2 linked regions of the Homo sapiens genome follow. The protein of the gene in region 2 interacts with the protein of the main gene of each other region in a pairwise test. Each region holds a gene or a part of one and is shown on either strand. Other genes may lie near its edges.

The links.
Region 1: the proteins of TRIB1 (region 2) and STK40 interact in binary tests that used the Homo sapiens proteins (3 or more experiments, as listed by UniProt).

Annotation. Positions count from the first base shown.
Region 1 is NC_000001.11:36,383,900-36,387,803, forward strand, and holds the start of STK40 (serine/threonine-protein kinase 40), read right to left. Parts: upstream 2,026-3,904; 5' UTR 1,824-2,025; intron 1-1,823. UniProt on the Homo sapiens protein: May be a negative regulator of NF-kappa-B and p53-mediated gene transcription.
Region 2 is NC_000008.11:125,428,380-125,432,283, reverse strand, and holds the start of TRIB1 (tribbles homolog 1), read right to left. Parts: upstream 1,927-3,904; 5' UTR 1,382-1,926; coding exon 1,022-1,381; intron 76-1,021; exon of another isoform or gene 1-75. UniProt on the Homo sapiens protein: Adapter protein involved in protein degradation by interacting with COP1 ubiquitin ligase. The COP1-binding motif is masked by autoinhibitory interactions with the protein kinase domain.

The sequences.
Region 1 (3,904 bases), on a different chromosome or scaffold from region 2:
ACTTCTGCCAAGCCTTTTCATGGCACACTCCCGTCCCCACCCCACCCCCAAGGCTGAGCTCACAGCTTTCTCCCTTTCTCCACTGGGCTCCCACAGTACTCTCTTGCTGCTGCTATTAGCTTCTTCTTCTTCTTTTTTTTTTTTTTTTGAGACAGAGTCTCACTCTGTTACTCAGGCTGGAGTGCACTGGCTTGATCTCGGCTCACTGCAACCTCTGCCTCATAGGTTCAAGCAATTCTCCTGCCTCAGCCTCCCGAGTAGCTGGGATTACAGGCCTGTGCCACCATGCCCAGCTAATTTTTCTATTTTCAGTAGAGATGGGGTTTCACCATGTTAGCCAGGCTGGTCTCGAACTCCTGACCTCAGGTGATCCGCCCGCCTCGGCTTCCCAAAGTGTTGGGATTACAGGCATGAGCCACGGCGCCCAGCCACTACTAGCTTCTTTAGACCACATTTCAACCATTTGTTTACAGGTCAATTTCCCTTAATTAGACTGTATGCTCCTTGAAATAAAAATAGATAACATTTATTGAATTCTTATTACGTGGCAAACATGGTTGTATGTTTTACATGTTAACTTTTTACTCTTCATAATATCTCTCTCTGTTATCATCCTTGTTTTATAGACGAAGACACTGAGGCACAGGGAGACTAAGCAATGTGCCCAGGTACACACAGCTGGAAAGTTGCTGAGCCAGAATTTGAACTCAGGAAGTCTGGCTCCAAAGCCTACTCTTAACCACTATGCTGTCTAGCACTTGCCTCTAGGCAAGGACTCTTGTTGTGGTCATGTGAGAAATGAATGAATGAATGAATGAGGACTGTCTAGATTAACCCAACCAACAACTTGCACAGCACGGCCATTAGGAAGCACTAAAGGAGCTCACAGGCACTGTTTACAAACAAGATTATTTTGGCCCTACAATTACACATTCTGCTCTTCCTTATCTCACGCAAAACTACTCAAAGAGGGAAAGGCGCCCAGCCCAGTATGCCTACCCTCTTCCCCACTGGTTCTCAAAACCAAAGCAAAGCCAACCGGTTTCCTCCAGTGACTTAAAACAGAGCAAAGTCTATCCTGCCACACAGAGGGCGGCTGTCATCTCTTCCTTCCGCTAACAAAAGGGCTTCAAACCTGGGGATTGGGGTGGGCAGAAAACTCGGCATCAGGAATCCGAATGTCCCTACCTAACTGGCTGGAAGGCGGGGCCAAGTGGCGTGGGAATGGGCGGGCCTGACCGGCTCGGCAGGTGAAACACTGACCACAGCAAGCTCTCCTTGGAAAAGGCCGGCCAAACGTGGCCTTGGCAAGCAGGTAGCTGTGACTCGTACCTGAACGCCGCCCGGGATATGAAAATTCCCCAGCAGCGGTAGCGCCCGTGCCAGAGTGAGGGCTCTTGGAGGAAGCCCTGGCTGGCCCTCCCTGGGGACTCGTTCTAACTATCAAGTCACCCTCGGGATTAGGAGGGAAACACGGAGAGGCAGAAGGTGTCTTTTTGGAAAGATCTGGCTGGATTCACACGCCGGTTGCTTCACTCACTGGCTGGGTGACTCTAGGCAAAGCTGGCAGTGCCCACTTCCCAGAGCTGCGGCGGGGACTGAAGCTCCCGCGGCCTCCCGGTACCCGGCGCGAGGCAGCCCTCGCCCCTGCCGCCGGGGAAGGGCAGAGCCCCAGCGGAGGAGGGGGCATTCGCCGGGGCCATTTCTGCTGCACTCAGATGGCTTCAGGCTGTCACTCCGATTCCACCGCCGCGGCCGCCGGGGCCCGCCCCGCCTACCCGCAACCCCCACCCGGCTCCCCGCTCCTGGACCCCTGCCCTCACCTTCGCCGGGTGGTCAGAGCTATTCGCCCATAGTCCGTAGCCCAGAGCCGGGGCTGCTCGGCTCTCCCTCCCGGGGGGCCGGGGCCGGGCTGGAGGCGTGCGAGCCTCTCACCGCCGCCTCCCAGCGCAGCCACCCGAGCCGCCGCCGCCGCCGCCGCCGCCTCCCTCCATGGCTGCGGCGCCGCCACCTGACAACGGAAGTGACGCACCGCCCCCCTCCTCCCCAGCCTTAGCCGCGGCCCCGCCCCCCCGGGCCCCGCCCTCCGCCTGCGTCTCCAGCCCCACGGCTTTCGGATTGGGGCGCCATCTTGACGATGGGCGGAAGACTTCAGGCAAGAGGCCAGAGTCCGATTGAGGATTGGTTCAGGGTGGGGTCTGGGCGAAACCTGTTACACGATTGGAGGCCGAGGCTCTAATGGGGCGGTACTTACTGCTGATCTATATCTGCGGCGAGGCTGGGACGGAGGCACCGCCCCGCCCGACCCCACAGAACCTCGCGGGCCCTACACTCCCCCTGCCGAGGTTGAAGTCCCCAGCGGTTGGAAGATCGGCCAATTGTAGTGTATTTATCAGAAAAGTGACTCATCCTTGATCCTCATTTCCCGGTTTGTGGAACTCTGTGAGGAAAGCCCTGCAGTTAGGCTCAATAAAAGACAGAAATTCCTGTCGCAGCGCTCATAATTCATTTCCCTCTAGGTCTGTCGCCTTTGTAGAAACCCCGAGGATGGCAACCTTCAACCTGGAGATCCCTGAAGCCTTGACCAGGGAGGTTTACAGTGAAGCGTTCCTATTAGCGACTACAGCTATCTAACCTCAGTTCCTCCTGCTGCAGTTTCGGTCCCTTTCTCCTCCTCCTCCAGCAACCACGCCCTCCATGAATCAGCTTCTTGCACCAGCAGATGAGCCCTTTAAAGGGATTGCATCAGGCAAGTGACTCACTGGGGCCCTCTAAGAGCCTGGCTTCCCTCCCTTGGCATGCAGAAGCAGCTAGAAGGGCTCAGTGGCAGCAGCACCAGCGGCCGTAGCCCCACTCCCTTGTCCCAGAGGTGTGAGTCAGGGTGTTTGCTGCTTATGATGTCTAACTCTTGGCTGTCTTTCCAGCTGTCCCCTGGGTCACTCTATATCCATGTGTGGGCACACGTGTCTAAGCTTGTGTGCACTGCTGGGTTTTCCTAGGGTGTGTGGCCACTTGTGTGTATGTGCATTTGTCATCTCCACATAGGCAGTGCCAGGACACAAGAGCTGATATGAGTGAAGTCTGGCTGCCTCTACCTGTGTCCTTTGTCTCTGAATGCCTGGTGCCCACTGAGCTGCTGATAGGGCTGACTAACAAGAGTAATCAGGACAGCTCCCACCGTTGTGCCACACTCTGCATGGAGCACTTGAGACAGTATTAGGTAGGAGGCTGTTTACAGCTGAGGAAGCCAGTGCTCAGAGAAGGAAATTAATGTGCCCAAACACACACAGCTAATAATGGCAGGGCTAGGATTCAAATCAAGTCTGATGGATTCCAAAAAACTTGGCTTTGAATCCCTGCTGCATCACTTACAAGCTGGGTGACTATGTGCAAATTGCCCAATCTTCCCCTTCTGTCCAAACAGGGATAACGCTTGGGGGATCACTGTGAGGACTCGGAGTTATAGAAACAGCTTTTTGCAAGACCCAGCGAGCACTCATACTCATCTCAGTTGAAGGGCTTCAATGAGGTGGGTGACCAAAAGACAGGCATAAAGAAGGCCCCAGCCCAGCAAGCTCCACTCTCTGACAAAACAAAAAGCCTAGGGATTCCGGAAGCCCTGACTCTGACAAAAATGAGTTCTGGGTTTTCCAGAGCTCTAATTATCAGCTAGATGAATCACTCTGCGCTGACACCACCATTCCTACCCCCAGGAGACTCTCAGCTGATTGAAAATCCAGGATTTTAACAAAGGAGAGGAGGAGGAACAGAAAGCTAGGAGGAGAAGAAGTAATGAATAGAAACCAAAGGTGCCAGCCAGAGGAAATGAGAAACTGTCATCAGGACACTACCATGAGGAGAACGCTGGGACACACACACACACACACACACACACTCACACTCA
Region 2 (3,904 bases):
GAAAAGGTTTTTTTTTCCTCCCTATTAAACTGGGCTTGATCATGCGTCTGAAATTTCATTCGGGTTGGGCAGTAGGTGGCAGCAGCGAGCCCCGGGACGGGGTCGGGGTGTTGGGAGTGTCAGGTGAGTTGCGGAAAACCCAGAAGCGACTTAACTGGGGGGTGATCCTATCTTTCGGGTGAAAAGGAGCGGCCCGAGGGTGCTCTGGGGTGCCTCAAGCAGGGGTGCCACGCTCGCATAAAGTAGACTGTGGGAACGTTCTGCGTCTACCCGCGCAGGAGGAGGACCCGGCGGATCCTGTTTCTAGGAGCTGTGTCTCCTCCTCCTGGATGGGATCCCTATGTTCAAAGGAAAATCGCTGGCTGGAAAATAAAGTGAATCGAAGCGAGGGTTCCTGGCCGGTGTGGGCTTTTCAACATTTCTACTCCGAGCAGATTCCTCCGCCTCGGGTGGATGACTCTGGGACTGCTCCCTTGGGAGGGCGTGTTCTAGTCTCAGCGCGGATTCAATTCGGAATCCCCAAGGCAGGAGCCGGACACAGTCTTCCAGCCCCCTTACCACCTACAACTGAGCCCGGGTGCCGTGCAAGCCCGGCAAGAGAGCTGCCAGCTGCTCCAAGCTCCTAGGAGGCACCCACTAAAGGGCGTCCTTCCAGGACATTGGCGGGGGAGGGGGGGTGGAGAGCGAGGAGAATGAGAGAAGGGGAATGGCATGGCCCTGGAATCCATTTCAATTCCACAACTTATATGGAACGCCACGCGCTACACTGGGCGCTGAGGAAAGGAACAGATAGAGAAAGCCACTGAACACTGCACTTCCTCTAGGCGCCCCCATTATATCACTCCATGGGAAACCCCTCGATCCACAAAAACGTGAACCTGGTCAAATGGCGTCTTATCTGACCCAATCTACTGATCCGCCCTGTGCCCAGCCCAAGCGTTGGCCGGACCCCAAGCACCTTTGCCTACCACCCCGTCCCGCGCCCCCGACCCCAGCCGGGTCCTGGCCCGGGAGCGCCTACCTTGCAGCGCAGCTCGCGTCCAGTGTGGATGCACAGCGCCCGGGACACATGCTCGCGCTCGGCTAGGGGCAGCAGCAGGTAGTCGGCGATGCGGCTGGGCCCCGGCGCGCTCCCGGAGCCTCCGCCGGCCCCCGGAGCGGCAGGCGGGGGCTGCGGGCTGCAGGGCGAGCCGGGGGGGCTGAGGTAGTCCGGGGGGCTGGAGCACTCGGAGAGGCGCGGGCACTTGGCCGCCACAGCCGCCGCGTCGTCGGCGTCCAGCAGGCGTTTGGCCGGGACGCCTCGGGTGGCTGGGAAGAGCAGGGCCGGGCCGCGGGGCTGCGAGGCGCCGCTCATGGCAGAGCGCACCGGACCGACCCGCATCCCGTCCTGGGCCGGGGTGGCCCCGGCTTTTTAAGTCCCGGGATCCGCGCGGGAAGACGCTGCGGGTTTGGTGCCGGCTCCGCGACTTCTTCCAGCCGGCGGGATGGAGTTTGCAGACTGGTCTTGGCTCGGCCCCCACGAGGGGCAAAGCAGGAGCCACTCCCCGGCGCTCGCGTTGCACGCGGGGACCACGCTGGCTGTGCGTCCGGGAGGCGGAGGCCGGCTCGAGTCCCCGGACCCCCGCAGGCAAGGGCTCCCGGAGCCTCGCTGGGGGCGGCCGCCACTATTGTTGCCGAGGCTGCCGATAGTCCGGGAGGCAGAGGCGGCGGCGGCAGCGGTCAGCGATCCCGGGGTCCCGAGCCGCGAGGACAGGATTCAGCAGGCTCGGCGGAGCCACGAAGCAAATGCACTTCCCAAAGCGATGAGTCTCCAGCAAAAGCCGGGGGAACTTTTTCGCGGCGCTCGGGATCCTGAGCGCTCCTGGGCTCCGGGCGTGTATGAGAGCGAGCGAGACGCGCTCAGAGAGAGTGACTGTGAGTGAGTGTGAGCGCTGCACCGATCCCGGCCAGTGCACTCCTCCTTCTCCTTTTCCTCCACCTCCTCCGCCTCCTGGTGACTCACGCTGTATACACACACACTCACAGGCCGGGCTGTGTAAACAGTTGGGAAGCCGGGTTGTGCAATGAGGTGGCTGCGACGACTCCGGCCCCGCCGCCCAGCGAGCAGTCTCCGGAGCGGAGGGAGGAGACTGGGGGAAGGGGAGAGGGAGTAGGAGGTGGGGGGAATGGGGGTGGACTTAGGGCTGGGGATGCTCCGGGCAGCGCGCGCTCGGGCGCAGGTGGTGCGTCCCGGGCCGGCCTGGACGCGCGCACACGCCCCCAGGGCTGGGAGGGGCTGGGCAGGAGGCGGCGCGCGCGCCCTCCCGCAGGCCCCCAGCTCAGCGGAGAAGCCGAAGGAGGGGGCGGAGGAAAAGTTCCCGTGACGTAAGGGCCCGGGGAAGTGGGCGGGAGGGACGGGGCTGCGGGGAGCGAAGCGACCGCTGATTGGTGCGCGCGCCTCATTCACAGTAAGCACAATGGGCTGCGGGCGCGAGGCGGGAGCGCGCACCACGGTTCTCTGCACCCGCCGCTCGCTGCAGCCCCGCGGCGACGCCTTTCGCCCCGGGGATCCCCCCACCGCCCAGCGCCTGGGGAGCTCCGGTTGGAGCCGTGGGCGCCGCCGAGGCCCGGCTGCAGCCGGAGGAAGGAGGGGGATAGGGAGGTGATGAATTCCAGAATCAGTCATTCACCCCCACGCGGTAGTTCCGGGGAAGACCTGTGCGTGGTAGTGGATGTGGCTTTTTTTTTTCCCTTTTCCTGCCCCCTCCCAGCTCTAATCCCCAGCGTCTGTTCGCTTCCACAAATAGAACCTTCTGTTGGAGGAAATAAAAGCAAACACTGGGCCTTCTGCGCTGCCTCCACCTCCACGCCCCCCCAACCCCCCCGCGCCTGCCGCCCGCCCGGATTGCACGGAAATAGCTTCTCCAGGCTCCCGGGCCGCCCCTTCGCGGTGACTCGCAGAAAGAGCTTCCTGAGCCAGGGCCGGTGGGAAACAAAGGATGTGGGGAGCGGGCGGAAGGGGCCCACGTGGCTGCCGCCGGATTCCTACTCCCTCCCCAGCCTCCACACGCGCCGCAGGGTCTAGGGCCTGAGTGCCAACCTGGGTAGGTGGGTAGGCTGGTGGAAGTCATTCTGGCCACTGCCAGAGATACCGCCTGCACCCGGGCAGCCCTGCCTGGTGGTGCGCATGCATTCATTCCGTGTGATTTGGAAGAGCATCAAAGTTGCGCGTGAAACAACTTGGAATCTGTCATTTTTCTTTCTTGAGTGAACCAGGTCAGTTTGGAGTCCCTGGGCACCCAACAATATAACTATTATTAGAGAGCCCTTACTTGTCCTTCTGCTAAATACTTAATTTTCTAAAACCAGGTCGAGCCCCAGGAATAAATCATTTTCCTTATTAATTCTCCATTCATTCAACAAATACTAATTAAGCATCTACCAAGAGCTAAACGCTGGGAATTAGAAGGTGAAAATTAAAATAATAATAATAGCTAACATGAATCGAGGCCTACAATGTGTCGGACACTGTTCTTAGCACTTTATATGTATTACTTCAGTTTTCCAACCACACTATGGGGTTATTTTTTGCCCCATTTCACAGGGAAGAAACTGAAGCCTTAGAAGGATGAAGTTAGGCCAAGCGTGGTGGCTCACGCCTGTAATCCCAGCACTTTGGGAGGCTGAGGTGGGCAGATCACCTGAGGTCAGGAGTTCAAGACCAATCTGGCCAACATGGTGAAACCCCGTCTCTACTACAAGTACAAAAATTAGCTGGGTGTGGTGGCGCGCGCCTGTAATCCCAGCTGCTGGGGAGGCTGAGGTGGGAGAATCACTTGAACCTGGGAGACAGAGGTTGCAGTGAGCCGAGATCGTGCCACTGCACTCCAGCCTTGGGGAGAAAGCAAGACTTAGTCTCAAAAAA